Linked DNA regions of Homo sapiens: region 1 is linked to region 2. The links come from fine-mapping of genetic effects on gene expression. A gene starts in region 2. The other region holds a variant in brackets. All regions are shown on one strand. Distances are between the middles of the regions.

What was found. PIP is the estimated chance that this variant, and not a neighbour inherited with it, causes the effect.
Region 1: its variant is fine-mapped to the expression of DLGAP4 in whole blood (TOPMed, PIP 0.99).

The regions. Positions count from the first base shown.
Region 1 is chr20:36,418,714-36,430,189 of GRCh38, reverse strand. All of the region lies in intron 2 of DLGAP4 (DLG associated protein 4), which reads right to left. Among named protein-coding and RNA genes, the nearest start is that of MYL9, 120 kb to the left of the region's middle. The variant G/A (reference allele first, on the strand shown) is at 5,184.
Region 2 is chr20:36,299,658-36,311,133 of GRCh38, reverse strand. DLGAP4 (DLG associated protein 4) reads right to left here and starts at 4,795. Exons shown (of 13, transcript NM_001365621.2): 1 at 4,622-4,795.

The DNA of each region.
Region 1 (11,476 bases), 120 kb before region 2:
CTCAGTTTCCCCTGTTGTAAAATGGGAACATCCTGGAAATACTAGTCCAAAACTTAGGTAAGTCCCTTCCTTTTCTGAGCCTGGGCCTCAATCTTCCTGTCTGCCATGGAGCAGAGAGGTTGGCGAGGTTTCTAAGCCCACCGGCCCTGTACGTGGGAGTACCAAGACTTGGTTTGGCCTGAGCCTGGTGTGCTGAGGATTGGCAAAGAGTCAGTGTGGCTGGAGCAGAGCAAGTGAGGACAAGGTTTGTGGAGGGAGGGCTCTCAGAGGGGCTGGGTCAGGTCACAGCACAAAGGCTCTGGCTGACATCAAGTATGGAGGGCAGAATAATGGCCCCCAAATATGCCCATGACCTTGTCAAAAGGAACTTGGCAGGTGTGGTTATTTTGCAAATGTGATTAAGGATCTTGAGATGGGGAGACTATCATGAATTATCTGGATAGGCTCAAGCTAATCACACGGTCCCTATAAGAAAGAGGCATGGGCTGGGCATGGTGGCTCACACCTGTAATCCCAGCACTTTTGGAGGCCAAGGCAGGTGGATCACTTGAGATCAGGAGTTTGAGACCACCCAGGCCAACACAGTGAAACCCCATCTCTACCAAAAAACAAAAAATTAGCTGGGTGTGGGGTGTGTGCTTGTAATGCCAGCTACTTGGGAGGCTGAGGCTTCTGGAGAATCACTTGAGCCCAGGAGGCAGAGTTCGCAGTGAGCTGAGATCGTGCCACTGCACTCCAGCCTGGGTGACAGAATAAGACTCTGTCTCAAAAAAAAAAAAAAAAAAAAAAAAGAAAAAAAGAAACAGGAATGGGCCAGCCATGGTTTCTCATATCTGTAATCCCAGCACTTTTGGAGGCCAAGGCAGGGCAGATCACTTGAGGTCAGGAGTTTGAGACCAGCCTGGCCAACGTAGTGAAACCCCATCTCTACTAAAAATACAAAAATTACTGGGTGTGATGGCGTGCGCCTATAATCCCAGCTACTTGGGAGGCTGAGGCAGGAAAATCACTTGAACCTGGAGGTGGAGGTTGCAGTGAGCCGAGATTGTGCCACTGCACTCCAGCCTGGGCAACAGAGTGAGACTCTGTCTCAAAAATAAATACATAAATAAATAAATAAACAGGCAGGAAGGTCAGAGTCAGAGGAGATGTGCCAACAGAAGCAGAGATCAGAGTGATGTGGAGACATGAGCCAAGGAATGCAGGCAGCCTTCAGAAGCTGGCAGAGATGGCTGGGCATGGTGGCTTACGCCTGTAATCCCAGCACTTTGGGAGGCCAAGGCAGGAGGATTGCTTGAGGCCAGGAGTTTGAGACCAGCCTGGGCAACAAAGTGGGACTGTGTCTCAAAAAAAGAGATGAATTCTCCCCTAGAGCCTCCAGAGAGAATGTAGCTCTGCAATCCGTTTTAGACTCTGACCTCTAGAACATCCTATGAGACAAAGTGCGCCAGTCTGGGAACCAGACAGCACAAAGCCACACGGAACCAGGACTGGAACCCAGGTCTTCTTGACTCTTAACGCAGGCCCCACCCAGCCCACTGGCCCTGCTGAACTGGAGGATGTGCAAAGAAAGGGGACAGTGTGGGGGCTGGATCCACCAGCTGAGGGGCAGAGGGTGGGGAGGATGGGACGGTACCAGGTGGCCTCAGCAAAGAGTGGATGTCCATCTGGCCCAGCATGGCCCAGCTTCCACCAGCTTCTCCAACCTTGTTCCCATCTCTTACTGTCCACCTGCCAGCCAAGCTCACACCCTTCAGGATTTCTTCATAGCTCTCACTGCTCTGGGAAACTCTCATGTGTTTACTTGTTTGCTAGTTTCTTGTCCATCTTCCCCTAGATCTGAGCTGTCCAATATGGTAGCCACTGGGCCACAGAGCACTTGACATGCAGCTAGTGCGACTGGGAAACTGAATTTTTAATTTTTTAAAAAGTTTAATTAATTTAATTTAAATAGCACATGTGGCAAGTGGCTACCAGGTTGACAGTATAGTCCTAGAGGTTCAACCCTCCTCTTGCAAGGTGCCTCCCTCCCTCACCCCTGCTAAAGCTGGGTTCAGCACACTTTCTTATTCTAACACCTTTTCCACCTTTTTGAGTTGGACGTTTAGTTCATTTGTTTTCTGATCTCCTTATACTCTAATAAATGTGTCACAGAAAAGCTATATATTTTCCCCTGAGTATCTATTAGCTGCATATTATGGATTGTATTTTTCCAGTTTTTTTTCCCTTTTTTATTTTTATTTTTTGACACGGAGTCTTGCTCTTGTCGCCCAGGCTGGAGTGCAATGGGGTGGTCTCAGCTCACTGCAACCTCTGCCTCCTGGGTTCCAGCGATTCTCGTGCCTCAGCCTAACTAGTAGCCGGGATTATAGGCACGCACCACCACGCCCAGCTAATTTTTGTATTTTTAGTAGAGACAGGTTTTCACCATGTTGACCAGGCTGGTCTCGAACTCCTGACCTTCTGTGATCCACCCACCTTGGCCTCCCAAAATGCTGGGATTACAGGCGTGAGCCACTGCACCCAGCCTTTTTTCCTTTTTTAAAAAAAAACTGAGGAGAAATTAATGTAACATAAAATTAGTCATTTTAAAGTGTACAATTTAGTGACATTTAGTAACAATGCTGTGTAATCACTACCTCCATCTAGTTCCGAAATATTTCCTTCCTTCCTTCCTTCCTTCCTTCCCTCCCTCCCTCCCACTTCTTTCTTTTGATGGACTCTCACTCTGTCACCCAGGTTGGAGTGCAATGGTGTGGTCTCAGCTCACTGCAACCTCTGCCTCCCAGGTTCAACCGATTCTCCTGCCTCAACCTCCTGAGTAGCTGGGACTACAGGTGCATGCCACCACATCCGGCTAATTTTTGTAATTTTTAGTACAGATGGGGTTTCACTATGTTGGCCAGGCTGGTCTCTAACTCCTGACTTCATGATCCGCCTGCCTCGGCCTCCCAAAGTGTTGAGATTACAGGCATGAGCCATTGCACCCAGCCTCTTTCTTTCTTTTGAGACAGGGTCTCGCTCTGTTGCCGAGGCTGGAGTGCAGTGGTGTGATCATAGCTCACCGCAGCTTTGATCTCCTGGGCTCAAATGTCCTCCCACATCAGCTTCTTGAGTAGCTGAGACTATAGGTACATGCCCAGCTAATTAGAAAAAACATTTTTTTTTTTTTTGGTACAGACAGGAGTCTCATTATGTTGCCCAAGCTGGTCTGGAACTCCTGGGCTCAAGCAATACTCCTGCCTCAGCCTCCCACAATGTTGGGATTACAGGCATGAGCCACCACACCCAGCCCTGAAACATTTTCATAACCCCAAAAGCAAACCGCATCCCCAATAAGCAGTCATTCCCTATTTTCCCCTTTTCCCAGCTTCTGACAACCACGTCCATAGATACTTTCCGTGTCTATGAATTTTCCTATTTCCCGTAGGTATTACTTTTATTGTAGCAAAATACATGTAACATAAAATTTGCCATTTTAACCATCTTTAAGCGTGCAATTCAGTGGGGCATTATGGACACTCACAATGTTGTGTAACCACCACTATGATCTATTTCCAAAACCATTCCATCACCCCAAACAGAAACTCTGTACCCATTAAGCAAAAACTTCTTTTCTCCTCCTTCTCCTAGCCCCTGGTAATTTCTTTTATTCATTTTTTTTTTTGAGACAGAGTCTGAGAGTCTCGCTCTGTCACCCAGGCTGGAGTGCGGTGGTGCGATCTCGGCTCACTGCAACCTCTGCCTCCTGGGTTCAAGCGATTCTCGTGCCTCAGCCTCCCAAGTAGCTGGGATTAGAGGCGCATGCCACCATGCCCAGCTAATTTTTGTATTTTTAGTGGAGAACGGGTTTCACCATGTTGGCCAGGCTGGTCTTGAACTCTTGACTTCAAGTGAAATGCCTGCCTTGGCCTCCCAAAGTGCTGGGATTACAGATGTGAGCCCTATGCCTGGCGGCCCCTAGTAATATTTAACCTACTTTCTGTCTCTCTGAATTTGCCTATGCTAAATATTCTCAATATGTGGAATCATATAACATTTGTTATTTTGTGTCTGACCTATTTCACGTAGCATAATGTTTGTTTTCTAAGTTCACCCATGTTGTAGCATGGGTCAGAACTTCATTCCGTTTTATGGCTGCATCATATTCCATCCTGCATATATAGTACATTTTGTTTAATCCATTCATCTTTGGATGGACACCTGGGTTGTTTCTACCTTTTGGCTATTGTGAATAATATTGCTACAAACAATGGTGTCCAAGTATCTGTTTGAGTCTCTGTTTTCAATTGTTTTGGGTTAATATCCAAGTGGAATTGCTGGATCATACAGTAATTCTATGTTTAACTTTTGTTTTGTTTTGTTTTTGAGATGGAGTCTTGCTCTTGTCGCCCAGGCTGGAGTGCAATGGCATGATCTTGGCTCACTGCAACCTCCGCCTCCTGGGTTCAAGTGATTCTCCTGCCTCAGCAACCCGAGTAGCTGGGATTACAGGTGCCCGCCACTGCACCTGGCTATGTTTTGTATTTTTAGTAGAGACGGGGTTTCACCATTTGGCCAGGCTGTTCTTGAACTCCTGACCTTGTGATCCACCCGCCTTGGCCTCCAAAAGTGCTGGGATTACAGGCGAGCCACCACGCCCAGCCCCTATGTTTAACTTTTTGCGGAACCACCAAACTGTTTTCCATAGCAGCTGCACCATATGACGTTCCCACCAGCAATATACAGGGGTTCCAGTTTTCCCAGATCTTGCCAGAACTTATTTCCTTTTTAAAAAAATTATAGTCATCCTAGTAGGTGTGAACTGGTATCTCCCTGTGGCTTTGATTTGCATTTTCCTGATGACTAATGATGTTGAGCATCTTTCCATGTGCTTATTGGCTGTCTGTATATCTTCTTGGGAGAAATGTCTATTTAAGTCCTTTGCCCATTTTATAATTGGGTTGTTTGTCATTTTTGTTGTTAAGCTCTAGGAATTCTTTGTATATATTCTAGATATTGAACCCTTAGCAGATATATGGTTTGTAAATATTTTCTCCCATTCTGTCTTTGTGGGGTTTTGGTAGTATTTTTCTCCTCTTCCAGGACTGACCACTTACTCGCTCTTTCCTTCCCCATTAGCACTGATGGCTTCCCTTCCCCCCAGCATCCCCTGGCCTGTGAGCACCATAAAGAAAAGGAGT[G/A]TAAGGCTGGGCATGGTGGCTCACGCCTGGATTACTTGAGGTCAGGAATTTGAGACCACCCTGCCCAATATGGCGAAACCCCATCTCTACTAAAAATACAACAATTAGCCAGACGTGGTGGCTTGAGCCTATAATCCCAGCCACTTGGGAGGCAGAGGCAGGAGAATCACTTCAATCTGAAAGGCAGAGGTTGCAGTGAGCTGAGATTGTGCCACTGCACTCCAGACTGAGTGACAGAGCAAGACTCTGTCTCAAAAAAAAAAAAAAACAAACAAAACAAACAAAAAAACAGGAGTCCATGTGCCCGTAACTTTCCTGAGAGCAGGGGCTGGTTCTCATCTGGGGTCAGAGGAATGAGAACGGCTCTGGAGATGGATGTGCAGTGGATGCTGTGATGGCCACCCAGGACCCCCCTGCACAGAGGCACTCACAACCCCAGCTGCCAAGAGCATTGGCTGCTGACAATTCACAGCCAAGTTCCCGCTAGGAGCTGCTCTCAGCCAAAGGGAGATGCCTCACCCAAGATGCCAGACTTGGATCTCTAACTGCCTCCTTGACATCTTGCCCTGGAAGTCTGACAGGTCCAAGATACAGAACTCATTCTCCCACCCACCCTGACCTGCTCCACCCATAGTCTGTCCTTATGCTCCTTCCCAGGGGCACCCTGCATCCAATAACTGGTCAATGTTTGGGTACCAAGGTGTGGCTCCCTTGCCCCAATTCAGAACAACCCTAAAGGGCCATCCCAGTTCCAGAGCTCCCTATGGGATTCGCTGAGGCCTCTGTTGTGCTGTATTGAGGTTCACCTCTTCCCTCTGCCCAATCCTGTCCCCTTCACCTGTCACAGATGTTCCGAACTGATTTCCCAGGAAACTTCTCATGCAAACCTGAGTCTGTTTCCTGGGGAAGCTGACCTGAGATAGGACGGAACTGGATTCTACTTCTTCCCCTCCTCACTGCAGGACACTTGGTGATTCAGTCATTCCCCCTGAGCCTCGGTTTCCTCTTCTGTAACATGGGGATAATGATCCGTTTTCGGTTTTTTTTTAGACCGAGTCTCATTCTGTCACTCGGGCTGGAGTGCAGCGGCATGATCTCGGCTCACTGCAACCTCTGCCTCCCGGGTTCAAGCAATTCTCCCGCCTCAGCCTCCCGAGTAGCTGGGATTACAGGTGAGCGCCACCGTGCCCAGCTACATTTTGTATTTTTGGTAGAGACAGTTTCCCCATGTTGGCCAGGCTGGTCTCGAACTCCTGACCTCAGATGATCCACCCGCCTCGGCCTCCCAAAGTGCTGGGATTACTGGCCATGATCCTTACTTTTAAAAATTATAATAAGGTTGAACTGTGATGTCATATAGAAAGCCTCGCATTTCGATGCCCAATCAGTATCAGTCACACTCTGTTCCCCTCCTCACCTCACTATACTGTGCTTCTTGGGGACAGGCCAAAGCTTCCAGGTGAGGAATGCTGCACGGCATGGTGGAAACTGCATGTAGTTGGACCTGTATTCAAATACTGTCCTTTTTTTTTTTTTTTTTTTTTTTTTTTTGAGACGGAGTCTTGCTCTGTCACCCAGGCTGGAGTTCAGTAGTGTGATCTTGGCTCACTGCAACCTCTGCCCCCCGAGTTCAAGGAATTCTCCTGCCTCAGCCTCCTCAATAGCTGGGATTACAGTTGCCTGCCACCACGCCTGGCTAATTTTTGTACTTTTGGTAGAGACGGGGTTTCACCATTGGCCAGGTCTCGAACTCCTGAGCTCAAGTGATCCGCCCGCCTCAGCCTCCCAAAATGCTGGGATTACAGGCATGAGCCACCATGCCAGACCCCTTGGATTTAAATTCTAAACCTGCTATTTATTTGCTGTGACCTCGTACTGGTCCTTTCCCCCTTCTGTGCCTCAGTTTCCTCCTCTAGGCAATGGGGGGCTTGAATGAGGACGGTCTGAGCATCTGGTCACCCTGACTCCTCTGAGCTCCCTTGATCAGGGTTCCTGGCCCAGTGGGTGACAGGCCCTCAGCCACCCAACACCTAGGGTGGCAGGATCCTCACCTTAGGGAGGTCTTAAAATAGGCAGGCCTTGCCCTTGCAGGGGGAAGCAGCTGGCTGCCTCGAGCTGCCTTTTTCAATGAGCTATACTTAGGCCCACCCGGGTGCCCATAATTACTGCTCATTAATATAAGCATCATTGCCCTTATGGAAACGTGGAGGGCCCAGCAAAGCTGCTGCCTCCCTGGGAACCTCCCTGCTCCATGGTGCCTCTGTGTCTGCAGCCGCCACCCCCACATGCCAGAGTGAGACCTCCCTGCCCTACCTCATCTCATCGTGGTGCCAGAGTGGGCCTGTGAGCATGGGAGAGCTAATTAGGGACAAGGCCAGGAACAGAACCTAGCATGGCTCTTCCTGACACAAAACTCACCTGACTGCATCATTCCCTTAAGCCAGAACCTTCTGTGAATCCTTCTTCCCACCTCAGTCCAAACTGCTTGGTGTGGCAATCAAGACCCTCACTGATCTAACCATAAACCTTTTCAGATATTACCAATCCCATTTCCTTTCTTGACGGCCCTTCCCTTTAACCAGCCTGGATCCCTTACAATTCCCCACTCATATCTTGTATATTTGTTACTACCAGAAAGCCTACTTCTGTCTAAGGTTGCATTAACAGAGGTAGAGAGTCTAAGTGAAGGGAGGGGTGGTCCTGCTCAATGCTGAGTTAGATGATGAAGGCTTAGAAATGAAGTGAGGTGGAATGGCCGAACATTCTGGGGGTGTACATAGCAGTCCATGGAGGACACATTCTCTGCCTTAGACCTCTGAAGGGACGATGTGTGGAAGGGGAAGGATGGATTCTGTGGGGGCCTCCAGGGCCTTGCTGCTGCCTGGGGTGGGGTGAAGGTAGAGAGTGGCTGGCTGTGTTGCGCCATGGCTGTGTCTTTGGGCACCCTTCCCGTGCTCAACCCACATCTCTCATACCTGCTCCGGCTCTTGCTGGCTTCTCTCCTCTGACGTCTAAATGCTAGAGGACCCGGGTGCTCTCCGCCTTGCTCTAACACACCCTCTCCTCTGCTGATCTCATCCTGACGCATGGCCTTAAACACCACCTATCTGACAACTCCTGAATTTACATCTTCCGCCCAATCTGTCTCTCAGACGCCAGACTCAGATCTCTAACTGCCTCCTTGACATCTTGCCCTGGATGTCTGACAGGTCCAAGATAGAACACGGGATCTCTCACCCGCCCCGACCTGCTCCGCCCACAGTCTGCCCCGATTCTACTCATGACAACATCATCCTCCTGCTTGTTCAGGTCAGAAACCGGGAAGTACCCTTGACTCCTCTTTCACTACCCCAGCATCCCATTCAGCAGCACAAACTGTAAAAACAAGTCTCCCTTCCACATATCCCCAGAGTTCCTCCACCTACCACCTCCACAGCCCTGCCCCAGGCCGAGTCCCCACTATCTCTCACTCAGATGACTGCTGTTCAGATCCTTTCAAAGACTCCCATGGCCCTTGGACTAAAACCTATTCTCTCTTTTTTTTTTTTTTTGAGACAGTCTCACTCTGTCACCCAGACCATAGTACAGTTGTGCGATCTCGGCTCACTGCAACCTCTGCTTCCCAGGTTCAAGCGATTCTCCTGCCTCAGCCTCCCAAACAGCTGGGATTAAAGGCACACGTCACCACGCCCAGCCAATTTTTTTGTATTCTTAGCAGACACGGGGGTTCACCATGTTGGCCAGGCTGATCTCCAACTCCTGACTTCAAGTGATCTCCCTGCCTCGGCCTCCCAAAGTGCTGGGATTATAGGCATGAGCCACCGCGCCCGGCCCCTAGTCTTCTTTATTAGTATTATTTTTTGAAATAGGGTCTTGCTGTGTTTTTTGCCCAGGCTGGAGTGCAGTGGCATGTTCATAGCTCACTGCAGCCTTGACCTCCTGGGCTCAAGAGATCCTCCGGTCTCAGCTTCCTGGGTAGCTGGGACTATAGCTGTGCACCACAGGCACGGCTACTAATTTTTTTTTTTTCTTGAGACAGAGTTTTCGCTCTTGTTGCCCAAGCTGGAGTGCAATGGCACAATCTTGGCTCACTGAAACCTCCGCCTCCCAGGTTCAAGCGATTCTCCTGCCTCAGCCTCCAGAGTAGCTGGGATTACAGGCATGCGCCACCACGCCTGGCTAATTTTGAATTTTTAGTAGAGACTGGGTTTCTCCATGTTGGTTTGGCTGGGCTTGAACTCCCGACCTCAGGTGATCCGCCCGCCTCGGCCTCCCAAAGTGCTAGGATTACAGGTGTGAGCTACCACACCCAGCCTAATTTTTGTGTTTTTTATAGAGACAAGGTTTCCCCATGTTGCCCAGGCCAGTCCTGAACTCCTGGGCTCAGGTGATCCGCCCACCTTAGCCTCTCAAAGTGCTGGGATTACAGGTGTGGGTCACTGCGCCTGGCCAAAAACCAGTCTTCTTCTGGCTTTCCCGACCTCATTTCCTGCCCCTCTTCCCTTGGGTCTTCATTCTGTCCTTGGGACATGGATGGTTTGCTCCTGCTTTTGCCCTACCTGATCCAGCTGCCTGGAGTGCTCTTCCCTCCTGTGTCCACACAATGCCCCCTCACTTCATTCAGGACTTGGCTCACAGGCTACATCCACTGAGAGGCGATCCCTGACCACACTGTCCAAAGCAGCTCCTCGTCTGCCAGCCCCTCTCTGCTCTGATGTATGCCCGAAGCAGCCTGGAACAGCAAGTACAGACTGTGTCTCTGCCACCACTGCGTCTCCAGCATCCAGCACGGGGCTTGGATATAGTAGGTGTTCATGAAGATTGTGTTGAATGAAAGAGTGGTGGAAGGCCTTGGGGACGCCAAGAAATGATCCAGAAAGTGAGGCAGCTACAGGGTAGTTAAGTTTTCCACTCAAGCCAATCAGGCTAGTGGGGAGAGCTGTGTGTGATCCTTTATTGAGTGCTTATTGTATACCAGGTGCTTCACATTATGTGAGCTCATTTAATCCTCACTACAACTCCTCCTGCTGGGAATATTGCATCCACCATGGCAGCCAGCCTCCAAGATACACCCCGGTGGTCCCCACCTCCTGAAGTCCCATCCTTGTGTACACCCCTCTCCCTTAACATGTGCAGGGTTGACCGGTGTCACCAATAGGATATTGTGGAGATGACCAAGTGTGACCTCTGAGGCTAGGTCAGGAAAGACACTGCAGCTTCTGCTTTGCTCCCTTGGAGAAGTTAGCCGCCATGTTGTGAGGACACTCAAGTAGTCCTAAGGAGAGGGCCATGTGGAAGGAACTGAGGCCTCCTGCCAACAGCCAGCACTAACTTGCCAACCCTGTGGGTGAACCACCTTGGAAGGGGATCCTGCAGCCCCAGTTAGGACTTCGGATGGCAGTAGCCCCTGAAGTAGGACTTCAGATGGCAGTAGCTGACAACTTGACTGCATCTCATGAAAGACCCTGAGCCATTACCCGATTCCTGACCCCTAGAAGCTCTGTGAGATGATACATATTTATTGCTGGAAACCATGGCCAAGTTTTGGGGTGATTTACTATGCAGAAATAGGTCACTGAGGGCCAAGTACAGTGGCTCACACCTATAATCCCAGCACTTTGGGCTGAGCAGGAAGATCACTTGAGGCCAGGAGTTCAAAACCAGCCTGGGCAACATAACGAGGACCCCATCTCTACAAAAAATAAAGCATGAGAAAATTAGCTGGGTATGGTGGCACGCAGCTGTAGTCCCAGCTGTTCAGGAGGCTGAGATGAGAGGATTGCTTGAGTCAAGGAGGTCGAGACTACAGTGAGCCATGATTTTGCCACTGCACTCCAGTCTAGGTGACAAGAGTAAGACCCTATCTCAAAAAAAAGAAAAAAAAAAGAAAGAAAGAAATAGGTCACGAATCTACCCATGTTAGAGGAGAAGCAGCAGCTCAATGGCTGAAGTCACCTCTCTAGGCCCCACATCCAGAAGGGGGTGGCGCTGGGTATGAATCCGAGCCTGATCCTTGAGCCCACATCCCATGGCCCTGCCCACCAGGCTGAGTTGAGATTCCGGGATTCCTTCCATCTAAGACAGCTCCATAATCCTGATGCATTCAAGGTCTGAATTGTTTCCAGCCTAAGTCCGTGTCCATAGCAACTGTCTGAAAAGCATGATATTCAACTAGTTGTTTGGTCAACAAGATAGCAGGCCATGGCTGCTGGGGACGTGTGACTGACACTGCTCCCACCTCGGGTCCCTCCTCCACTTGAAGACAACCATGAGAAGTGAATTCCCAGGCCCAT
Region 2 (11,476 bases):
GTGGCTAGAAGATGGGGGGATGAAATGGGTTCTGCAAACTGTAGAGTACTGCACGTGCTGCACACCCCTAAAGGCTTCAGTCCTGGCCTGGAGGAGTTGCCAGGAGACGCTGTGGAGGGGATATAGGAACAGAACAGGCAACCCTCTCCCCCATAGGTCACAATGAAAGAAAATCTAGTCATGTGAGTCACAAAGCATCCCCCCATATTCCGATAAAGTAGGAAGTGGGCTTGTCTTTGGTGCAACACACAGGACTCCTCGGTGACAGCTTTTCTCAAAGATGCCCAGTGAGTTTGCTCTCCAGCACCCTCACTCCCTTAACCAACAGGGTCATCTGTTAGAAGAAACTGCCAAGCCTCGCCAGCCCCACGCTGATGCCAGCCCTGGGAGCTTACACACAAAAGCTGTCCTTCAAAGCCACTACAGCAAACCCAGTGGCTTGCTCTGGATCCAAACCCTGGCACCTCCACCTCACCAGCTGTGCAGCCTTGGAGACCTTACTAATAAACTAAACTAATGCTCAGTTTCCTTGTCCAGAAAATGGGAGGACAGCCCACCAGATGCCCCAAGATGCAGGGCTCCCAGGATCACAGACTTCGGACAGTGGAAGGCAGAAGGTCCCTCAGAGATCATCAGGTCCAAGTCTTCACTTTATCAAGGGAGCCCAGAGAGGGGACACGCCTCATCCAAAGAAACACAGCAAATTCGCAACAGGGCTCCTAGAAGAGTGGATGCCGACCATGACTGCACCCTACTCCCTCCACCACCAGCCTCCCTGTGGCCCACTCAGGAGTGGCCACCTCCTCTTAGAAGGACACATAACCCTCAGCATCCCCAAGCTCAACCAGCATGTGGCTGCCTTCCTGCCTTTATCCATGCAATTCTTTTCTTTTCTTTCTTTCTTTCTTTCTTTCTTTCTTTCTTTCTTTCTTTCTTTCTTTCTTTCTTTCTTTTTTTTTTTTTGTAGAGACAGGGTCTCACTATGTTGCCTAGACTAGTCTCAAACTCCTGGACTCAAGGAATCCTCCCACCTTGGCCTCCCAAAGTGCTGGGATTACAAGCATGGGCCACTGTGCTTGTCCATGCAGTTCTTGCAGCCAGCAGTGTCCTTCCCCACTATTCTCCATCTACCCAAATCCCCAAATCCTCCAAAACCCTGCTCAGCGCATGTCCTTTATGAAGCACTTCCAGTGGTTGGACAGCACCAGTCTCCATCACTAGGAAGCACCTGGCAGGATGGCTACAGTTTACAGAGTGGGGTCCTCACAGGTTTGACTCTGTGTCCCCAAGCCTGGCACAGGGCTGGACACTGAGTGGGCCTCAGGAAGCACTAGTAGCCCAAAGAACGGACAGAGGACTAGGAAATGGAAGAGTGAACAGGCCAGTGACCTGGCGAGTGAAGGAAGGGCTGAACAGGTAAACAGGTGATGATGTGAGCAAATGAATGGCCACAGGGGGAAATGCCTGGCCAGGGGCACACCTCTAAAGATGCCAGGTCTGCCCCAGCATGGCCCCTCTCCCTCTTGTAGAGACTTTGGGGTCCCACAGACCTGCTGGGACTTTAGGGGCTACAGGCCTGTAACTCCCACAGATCCTGGCTAAATGCCTCTGGGTATGCAGACCCAGCTGGAGGCCAGGAACGCACATGGACAGTCATGTTGGCAATGGCCTGGCCAAGTCTCCCCCCATTCCCCAGAGCCCAGCCCTCCACTCAGAATGGACCAGGTCGTCAAAAGTCAAAAGAAATGGATGAGTGCACACGTTGAGCCAAGACATCTTCTCAGCACCAGAGGAATGGCGTGAAGAGACAGGCACGACCCTGCCCTTCTCCACACCAGCCACACCCAGAGACATCCAAGAAGGATGGGCACGGGGTAATGAAGCAGAGGCCCACGGGGCTGGGCGGGTGGTGACAGTGACACAGCCTGGCCTGGGCATCGAGGAAGGCTTTCTTTTGGAAGCGATGCTTAAGCTTGGGTGATGAGCAGTAGTGAAACAGGCACGTGGGAGAAGGGGGCTGGGGATGTTCAGGCAGAGGAGCCAGCATGTGTGAAGACCCTGAAGCTGGAGGGAACGTGGCCTGTTCCAGGAACTGAAGGCCCGCCAGGGGGACCCGAGCCAAAGAGGGAGGGGGTGGGGAGCAAGAGGTGGCTAGAAAGTAGCTAGTTGGGGGAGGGGGAGGTTGGGTTTCATCCTGGGAGCCATGACATTTATTGAGTACCTACTGTGTACTTTCTATAAAAAAAAACCCTGCATTCAAGATTTTATTAATTCACATTTCAGAATGTTTAAATGAAAGTGTTCAAATGCACTGATGTTAGCAAATGCGATTTTCTAATGCTTTTCTGAATGAATGAATACCCATCACGGAAGTATAGGAGGGTAGGGACCACCTGCTTCTGTCACATACGGTGCCCGGGATACAGTTCCTCAGAGCCTCCCCATCATGTGAAACTGCTGGCATTTACGAAGCCTGTGGCTCACAAACCACACAAGAACCTAATGAGATGTCAGTGGGTGCCCCGATACATCCGATACGTCAGCGTCTCCCGAAAGCTCCAAAGCACACATTCTCTCCTAGTTCCCAAGTGCTGCACAGCCTTCCTTCAAAAACACCAACTCAGCTGCCAGGCAGCTTCACGCCCGGGGCACAGCCCTCAGACCTGCAGTTCCATCTCAAGGCTGGCACCCGGGGTTCCACATAACCCAGCCATCAGGTCCCGTCCAGCTCACAGTTTCTCTTCAGCATGGACACTGTCTCCAATGCCTGACACAGGCTGCCTCCCCCAACAAAAAAGAGGCTCCTGGAGGTGGGGACCCTGTCAGCCATTGCACTCCCCAGCGCCCAGCACAGGCCTCACCAGGCCTCTGGCAGGTGAGTACGGGGTCGCCATGGACACCACACACGGGCACACTCCCAGAAGTTGAGTTGCGCTGTCCCAGCTCCTGGAGGACACAGGATCCCTGGCCTACCCCTGCCACAGCGGGAGACAGGCACTCTAGCCAGCCCCACGTGCACAGCCAGCGTCTCCGGAGCTGCTGGGAACACACTCGGAGTCTGCTGCTGACTGGCCCCGACAGCCGGCTCTAGGGCCTGGTGGTGGCTCCAACACTCCAGCCACCCATCGGCCAGGCCAGGGCACCAGCTCTGCAGCCCCACCCTGGGACCAGGCAGCCCAGTGCCCTCTGGCAGAGAAGGCAAGAGAGAGGTGGCCACCAAGGAGGGACAGAAACAGGGCTCTTCCAACAGGCATTCTAGGAGATGGTCCTGTACAACTGATTCCCACCACTTCCAGCTGGCGGAAAACAGCCCCCTCCCACAAGTGAGGGCTCAGAGGCAGAGAGAGCCAGGACTCCCCCCTCCCTACTGGGGACTAGGCTTGGAGAGGAGGTGCAGTGGAGGTAGAGGCAGGGCAGGCCAGTCCCCCGGGGGCTGGAACTGCAGCCCCCTCCCGCTATGTCATTTCCACTTCCAGGCAGGTGGGGGTGCCAGGAACCCTCTCCCCATCAGCGCTGCCCTCCAAGCTTAGGGCTTCCCATTCTCAGGGCACCTCCTCTACCCACCGCTCCCGGCACAACTGGCCTTTGCCAATCACAACCCCTCCCCCATTTCATTTTTTCCCACATCAACAGTCTCTGACAGCCCCTCTCTGCAACACAGGCAGCGGAGGAAGAAGGGGAGAAGGGCCGGAGGGATGGAGGGATGGAGGGATGGAGGGATGAAGGGATGGAGGGGGATCGGAGCGGCAGGTTCGGCCAAAAGAGACCAAGGGCCATTACACGTCCAGGTAGCACCTGTCCCCTTCCAGCAGGCCCAGCACATCTGGACCCAGCTGGTCCCCGCGGCCACCTGGTCCATCCGCCACCAGCTCTGAACGCGAACCCCTGTCTCCGCGGGGCGCCGCACGTGGGGGCCTCCGGTAGCCATGTGAGTGCCCCCCCAGCCCAGGTGCCCGGGTCAGCCCAGCCCCTCCCAGGGACGCAAACAGGGAGGGGGCGCTATGCAGCGCGGGAGGGGGGTGCTGCCCCCGCCCCCTCCCCAGATGCCAGGTCAGGGAAAGAGCTCGGGAAGGGGGGAGCCGGCGGCTCCCGGGTCTACCGAGACGGGATCCGAGGCAGCTGGGTTGAATGGAGGAATGCCCGGGCCGGCATAGCCCTGCTCTCCCAAGCGCCAAGGTTGGCCGGGCACGGGAGGGGTCCGCCTGACCCCCAGGCCGCCCTGCGGATTAGGGGGCGGGCCTGAGGAGGGGGCTTCCAGGCTTTGGCAGCCGCTTGATATGGGGTACGGGGGAGTCCGCGGGAAAAAGAGCCGGAATGGGGATCCGGTCCCGGACAGGGGTTCCGGGCCCCGGTGCCGCCGCCCCCGATTTGAGGGTCCGGGGAGACATGGATGGGGCGATCCCAACCGGAGAAGGCGCTTCCCAGCCGCACAGCCGGCCCCTCGGACCCGGGATCGGAAGACAGAACTGGCAGGGGAGGGGGCTTTTCTGCGCCAGCGCCGTCCCCCGGTTCAGGGAGGTCTGTCGGGGAGGAGACCAGATCGGGGGGTCTAGCCGAGGGACGGAGCGCGCCGGCCCGGGAAGGGGGTAGGAGCCGCCGCGCGCCACCCCCGCGCCCTCACCTGCGCCGGGCGCCTCGGCCGCCTCCGGCCCGCTCTGCCGTTCCGCTGCGCCGCCGCCGCCTCTCGGGTCCGCTCGCAGGTCCGCGCGCCTAGGCCCCGGCCCCCGCCCCGGCTCCGGCCCGCGGGCGCCCCATGCCTCTCCTCCGGCCGGCGCGGCGCCCCAGATGCGGCTGCGGGAGGAGGAGCCGTGCGGCCCCGGCTCCCCGAGAGCGGCGGGGAGGGGGCGGGGAGAGGGGAGAGGAGCGCGGGGGAGGGGGCCGTGCGGCTGCGCCCAAAACCAGGCGCGGATCGGGCCGCGGGCGCGGGGCTGGGGGGGCCTTGGGGGGGCCCGCGCCGTTCCTGGCGCCCCACCCCCACCCACGCCCCCGCAACCCGGGGGAAGGGGGAGGGTCTCCGCAGCGGGCGACCGCTCTGTCGCGATCCGGAAGAGCGCTTGGAAATCCGGGGCCGCCAGTCCAGAGAGGGCAGGCTACTGGAACAAGGTCACACAGCGCGGGCCGCGGTGGCACGGGAGCCTGGAACCCCAGGCTACGGGGCGGGCCGGCAGGAACCTGTGTTGACCATCGCCGCCCCGTGGAGGAGGGAAACTGAGGCCCAGAGAGAACGAGACTGGCCCGGGTCACACCGCGCCAGTCAGGAACCACCCCACCCCCGAGAACTTGGGGCTCCTGCCTCTAGGAATGGGTGCCCCCTCCCGGTGACCTGCTTCCGCAGAACCCTCTCCCAGGTGTCTTCTAGCCTCTGGCTGAACGGGGGTTAAATGCAGTCTCTGGAGTGGGATGAACCTGAACTGCGTACCAGCCCTGCCTCTCCTGGCTCTGTGGTTACAGACAAAAGACTGTCCCTCTCTGAGCCCCATTCCTCCACCTGTAAAATGGGGACACCACGAGTCTCTATCCCCAACTTGGGTGAGAAACCAAAGAGATCATGGGTATGAGCTCTTTACCGGTGCCTGGCATTCAGTAGGTGTCAAATGAATGTGCCTGCCTTCTCTGGCTCCCACACACAGCCATCTCCAGAGAATGCCTCTGAATGCAGAAGGGTCAGAATGGCGTGAAAGGGTGGCCTGCAAGGCTCCTCACAGCCCTGTTCCAGTCTCCTCCACCACCCACCCACCCTGCTCACATCCCCAACCCAGTGATGACTGTTTCAGTGCCCAGCCTCTGCCTTTCCCTGTGCCTGCCATGCCCTCCCACCTCTCTACCTGACAAACTCCTACTCATCCATCAAGGCCCAGAGCAATCTGTTTCGTACCCCAGCTTCTCACACTCCCTACTAGTCTACCCATATTTCCTTTCTCCAGAACACATTCCCCTTTCCCCAGTGTCTGGTCTGGGTTTGTCTCTATCTTCTCTGGCTCTAACAACTGGGGTGAGAGGAGGTCACTCAGAGGAGATGACACCCTGAGGCCCAGCGCTGCCCAAGAGGGCTTCCTGGAAGAGGCAGGGCTTCAGTAAAGCCTGGATGGAAAGGTGAGTTTAACACCTGCATGCAGCAGGCAAAGAGGTGGCATGTTTGGGCAGGGTGTCAGCAAGGAGGAGAGTGGGCTCCCTGGAGCAGTGGGAAGATCTTGGCGAATGAGCTGGGAGCCAGCGAGAGCCAGGGGCTGGACAGCGACCTGGCGGTATATATATGATCAGGTTGAAGATGAGCAGGCTTTGCCCTCGAGAACACCTCACATGGGGGCCCGGGAGGCTTGCACAAGGATGCTCATAGCAGCATCGTTTGTAATAGTGAAAAGCTGGACACAGCCTAAATGTCCATCATTTGGAAACTGGATAAATAGCAACACATTCAGACAATGGAAAACTGTCTGTGATCCACAATCCTCAAAATAGGTGATTGCAAGCTTATGCATTGTGAGGCTGAATCTCAAAAACACACTGTTGATTCAGTTTGTGAAAATCCAGGGTTGTACACTTACAATTTGTGTGCTCTTTGTATGAATGCTATACTTCAATACAATTTTTAAAATAAAAATATATATTGTTGGATGGAAAAAGCAAGTTGCAGATGGAAAACATAATTTCATGCCAGATACATAAAGTTTGAAAACACACAACACAATACCATATATTGTTTAGCGACACATACATATGTAATACAAGTGTAAAAGCATGCATGGGAGTGATAGACAGCAAATTCAAGAGAGTAGTGACCGTGAGGGAGAGAGGGAAGGGAATGTTGTAGTAAGGGCTTTAAATATACTTGAAGTGGTTTATGTCTTAAGCCGGGGTGGTGAGCACATGGGTGTTTGTCATGTTGTTCTCTAGACTTTTTTGTGGACATAAAATATTCCTATTGTAATACTTTTTTGTTTTGTAGAAAGTCAGGTGGTGCCTGGGAAGGCAAGGGGGTGCCATTGCTGGTTCTTGAGCAGGAGTGTGACATGGCAGTGGACTGGAACAGGCAAGACTAGAGAAAGGAATGTCAAGGAGGCTAGTGTGATGGCACAGGGGAGAGATGCAAAGCCCTGAGTGGGAACAAGGATGGGGTTATGGGGAGGAGGGGAAGGAAGGGCAAGTTTTAGAGGAACAAGCATTGGGCACGCTTAGGCAAGGGTCACAAACCCAAATGCCCACAGGGCTTGGACAGGTTGTTTAAGCAAGTTGTGAGCCTGGAGTTGTGGGGACTGTGACACATGGTCCAGCAGGGGCAGCCCCTACTCAGCACTAGCTGATTTTGCCATCTAGGGAAGGAGACAGTGGAGCCATATCTTATTTTTTCAAGAGAAGCTAGCAGTTAAGATTTTCTGAAATGTAAAACTTCAGAAAATCCCTGAAAATAATGGCAACTAGAGTGAAAAAATTGTTAACTCTATGCAAACCAAGCCATATAGGTTCACAGTCTCTCCAGTGAGGAAGAGACTTCAGGAGAAGAATGAAGGGACAATGACACCGAGTTTTCCTGCCTGTGAGGCTGAGGAGGCTCACAACCTAAGCAGCAATCAGAGAGGGCTTCCTGGAAGAACTGACACAGGGTAGCGAAAGGGGAAGGCATTTCTGATGGAAAGAACAGTATATGCAAAGGCAGGATTGAGTAGAGTGAGCCTAAAAGAAAAAAGAGCAAAAAACAGGAACAGGCGTTTCACAGAAGGGGAAACATATGGCCAGTAAACATACGAGGAGGTGCCTGACCTCGTTAGTCATGGGGGAAATGTAAGTCAAGACCATGATGAGATGCCACTGCACGCCCAGTCGACTGGCAACAATGAGAACGTGGGACAATACCAAGAGCTGGGGAAGCTCTAGCTCAGTGGCAGCTCCGAAGCTGCGGCCGAGAGGGTGATCTGGGCCACCCACTGCGACCCAGCACTTCCACTCCTGATGTGTATGCCCAAGAGAAACCCATGCAGAGGTACACTCGGCCAGTGCTTCTCAAACGTGAATAAGCCAGTGAATCCCCCAGGGGTCTTGTTAAAATGCAGATTCAGTTCTGGCGGGGCTAGGGCAGGGCCCCAGACTCTGCATTTCTAACAAGTTTCCAGGTGATGCCCGGGCTGAGGATGCCCAGACTGCATTTTGCAGAGCTTTAGGATTTACGCGCAGGAACAGCCACACAGCACTGTTTGCAATAGCAGAAGACCAGAAGACAGCCTGACTGTCCATCGACGGGAGAATAAAAAAAGAAATAAATAATGGTATAGTCACATACAGCCTTCAGAACAAATAAATCATGATTACATACAGCAACATGGCCACATGCTCATCAACAGCATTGAGCTAAAAAGAAAAGACAAGACTATATACAGTATGGCACTTTTTAACATAAAATTAATAAACAAGTAAAAACAAACTACATATTAATTAGGTATGCATGCATGTAATAACACTAAAAACAAGGAAACTAGGGGAGGATAAACTCAAAATTCAGAATCTTAGTGACCTCCAGCAGAGAGCTGGGGGATGGGATGGGGTGCAGCACAGAGGCAGATGTCAGATACTGATTCTGTTCTAGTTCTTGGGGTGAGCAGTGGCTCAAGGTGCATATGTTAGATTATGCTTTCTACTATCTTGTATTATATACACTGTAGGACTTGATGCACCAATGCTGAAGGCATGTCATGAACCAAGGACTCAGTTTAACTCACTTGTGTGTATCTGAAGTATGTATTTTTAAAAAGAGAGAGAGAAACTCATAGAGACAAAGACAGAAAAAGAGATGGAGAGGTCCACAGAGATGCAGTGAAAGTGGAATATAAACCAGGTCTGTAATTTGATAATGATTAAATCCGGATAATGACCATATCTAGCTAATGATGACATTGAGCTTGTACCAAACCAGTCTTGGCCAAACCCCATGACTCAGGTACAAGCTCTGCAGTTTCTCCTGAAGACAACAAGCTGTTTCACACCTCAGCCTTTACCTGAAATGCCTCTTCTCCCATTGTGTAGTCACCTTTCAAAATTCAACTCGAATGTCACCTATTCTGGGGAAATCACCCCTGACTTCTATGTCTCATTCTATGTCTCATTCCTGGTTTTATACCCCCAAAACACTTTATGATGACAAAGACACACCACGTCTCAAAGCAAATGCTGTTGGTGCCCATCTTGAATTCTGCTGCAGCCTTGGTGGACAGCTCCTGAACTCTGGTCTGCTGCAAGCACCCACCAGGTCTCTCCACTTTTCTGCCTGATGGCATTTTCTGAAGTTGCAAGAGCTTGTCCCATCCAAGCACAGGACGGCTTGGAAATGCAGGAGAGTAAGGCCCCCAGCAGAACCTTCAGTCCCTTGGGGAAAAGAGTCACAGAGGAAATGCTGCAGCCTCCGAGCCTTCAGGGAGACAGTCTCAGGCACGCTTTCCACTGTTCTTCAGAACGTCCCCAGCAAGATGGAGCTCCAGTGGCCCACAGTGGTGCCCTGCTGGCAAATGCCCATCTGACTGACTTTCCCTCCTCCTCTGCCTCCCTCCTGCAGACTAGGATCACCTCTCAGATAAACTACCTGCACTCAAGTGCCTGTTTCAGGGTCCACTTAGGGGGAACCCCCGCTTAGGCACACCTGTTACTTCCTCCTCTCCCACAAGACTGGAAGTAGCTCCTTGGGGTTCAGGCCACATTAAATTAATATCAAAGCATGGTATTTGAGACCTGCACAGTTATACCTGTAATCCCAGTGTTTTGGGAGGCTGAGGCAGGAGGACTGCTTGAGGCCAGGAGTCCAGGGCCAGCCTGGGCAACATGGCGAGACCCCATCCCTACAAAATTAAAAAGTTAGCTGGGTGTGGTGGAGCATGCCTGTAGTCCCAGCTACTTGGGAGGCTGAGGTGGGAGAATCACTTGAGCCTAGGAGGTCAAGGCTGCAGTGAGCCGTGTTTGTACCACTGCACTCTAGCCTGGGTGACTGAGGGAGACCCTGCCTCAAAAAAATTTAAAAAGGCAGCATTTGACAGTCTGGGTTCATACCGTGTGCTGCTTGCATCATATGAACTTGGCCAGGCTCAGCCAAAACAAGCAGAAGATTCTCAAACTTTTAATGACACTTAATGACATGTATCCCAGGGGAGGGGAGCTATGCAGAATTACCTCCTTTTTTCTCCTCTCCTATATTTTCCAAATTTTCTATATTGTCCAAATTTGTTCCAAAATAAATTTCTAAGTGTCATGTATTCCTTTGCTCTATTTTGATTTGTTTTCCCGGTGTGGGGGAGTGTGGGCTCTGGAGTGAACAGGCCTGGATTCATATCTTGGCTCTGTCACACACTGGCTGTGACTGGGCAAGTTACCCAACCTCACTGGGTCTCAGTTTCCACATTCAAAAAATGGACACAGCCCAAAACAACACAAACATCTACTTTGCAGGGTGGCTGGGACTGTTATAATGGAAGCACGTTGTGAACCACAAAGTGAATTGCAAGGCTGAGTTATCGTCTTCCCCGGGGCTGGCATCAGGCCTGGCATGGAGGAGGTGCCTGGGAAATGTTTAGAGAACAAAATGATTGAGGCTAGGAGTAGCAATTTCACACTGTACCTTATCTCATCCATTCATTCACTCACTTGGTGCCCACTGATACCCACCCAGGTCCAGCCCCTCCTGGGTACCAGGGATGCAGAGTTGCATGAGGAATGTCACTGGCCTCAAGGGGCTTGCTGCCCACGGAGGAGACACAAGAAAACCCACCACTCCTGGAGGGCACTGACTGAGCCTTGGGAGAGGGTCAGAAGGGTTACAGGAAGAGGTGACCCCTAAGCTGTGCAGGACTTAGCCTGAAGAGCAAGGGGAAGACAGAGGGGACGTTGCAGCGTAAGGACATGCTCAGAGACCTGGAGGCCAGGCTGGGGCACATCTGAGCCACTACTGGCAGCTCACTGAGACGGAAGCCTGGAGAGCTCAAAGGTGAAGCCAGAAAGGTTGGCAGGGGCTGGATCATCATGACCGTGAGGTCCTCTCAAGGCATCAGGACTTTTTATTGAAGGTGATAGTGATCTATAGAAAATGAGGACAAGGCTGGGAAAGAACTGTTGATTTTTTTTTTTTTGGAGATGGGGTCTGGCTCTGCAGCCCAGGCTGGAGTGCAGTGGCATGATCATGGCTCAATGCAGCCTCAAACTCCTGGGCTCAAGTGATCCTCCCACCTCAGCCTCCCCAGTAGCTGGGATTACAGGTGCACGCTACCGTGCCCTGCTTGAATCTTTGACTTTGTGGACTTGGGTGATTCATTTCGCCTCTCAGAGCCTCAGTTTCTTCATCTGCACAGTGGGGGCAAAAATCTCATAACAAGGATATTCTGAGGAAAACGTGAAATGAGGTGTGCTCATTGCCTGGCAGAGAGGAGGAAGGTGTTCAGTTCAGTAGATATGAGTTGAACGAATGAATAAATGAGTGAATGAATGAATGAATGAATGAATGAAT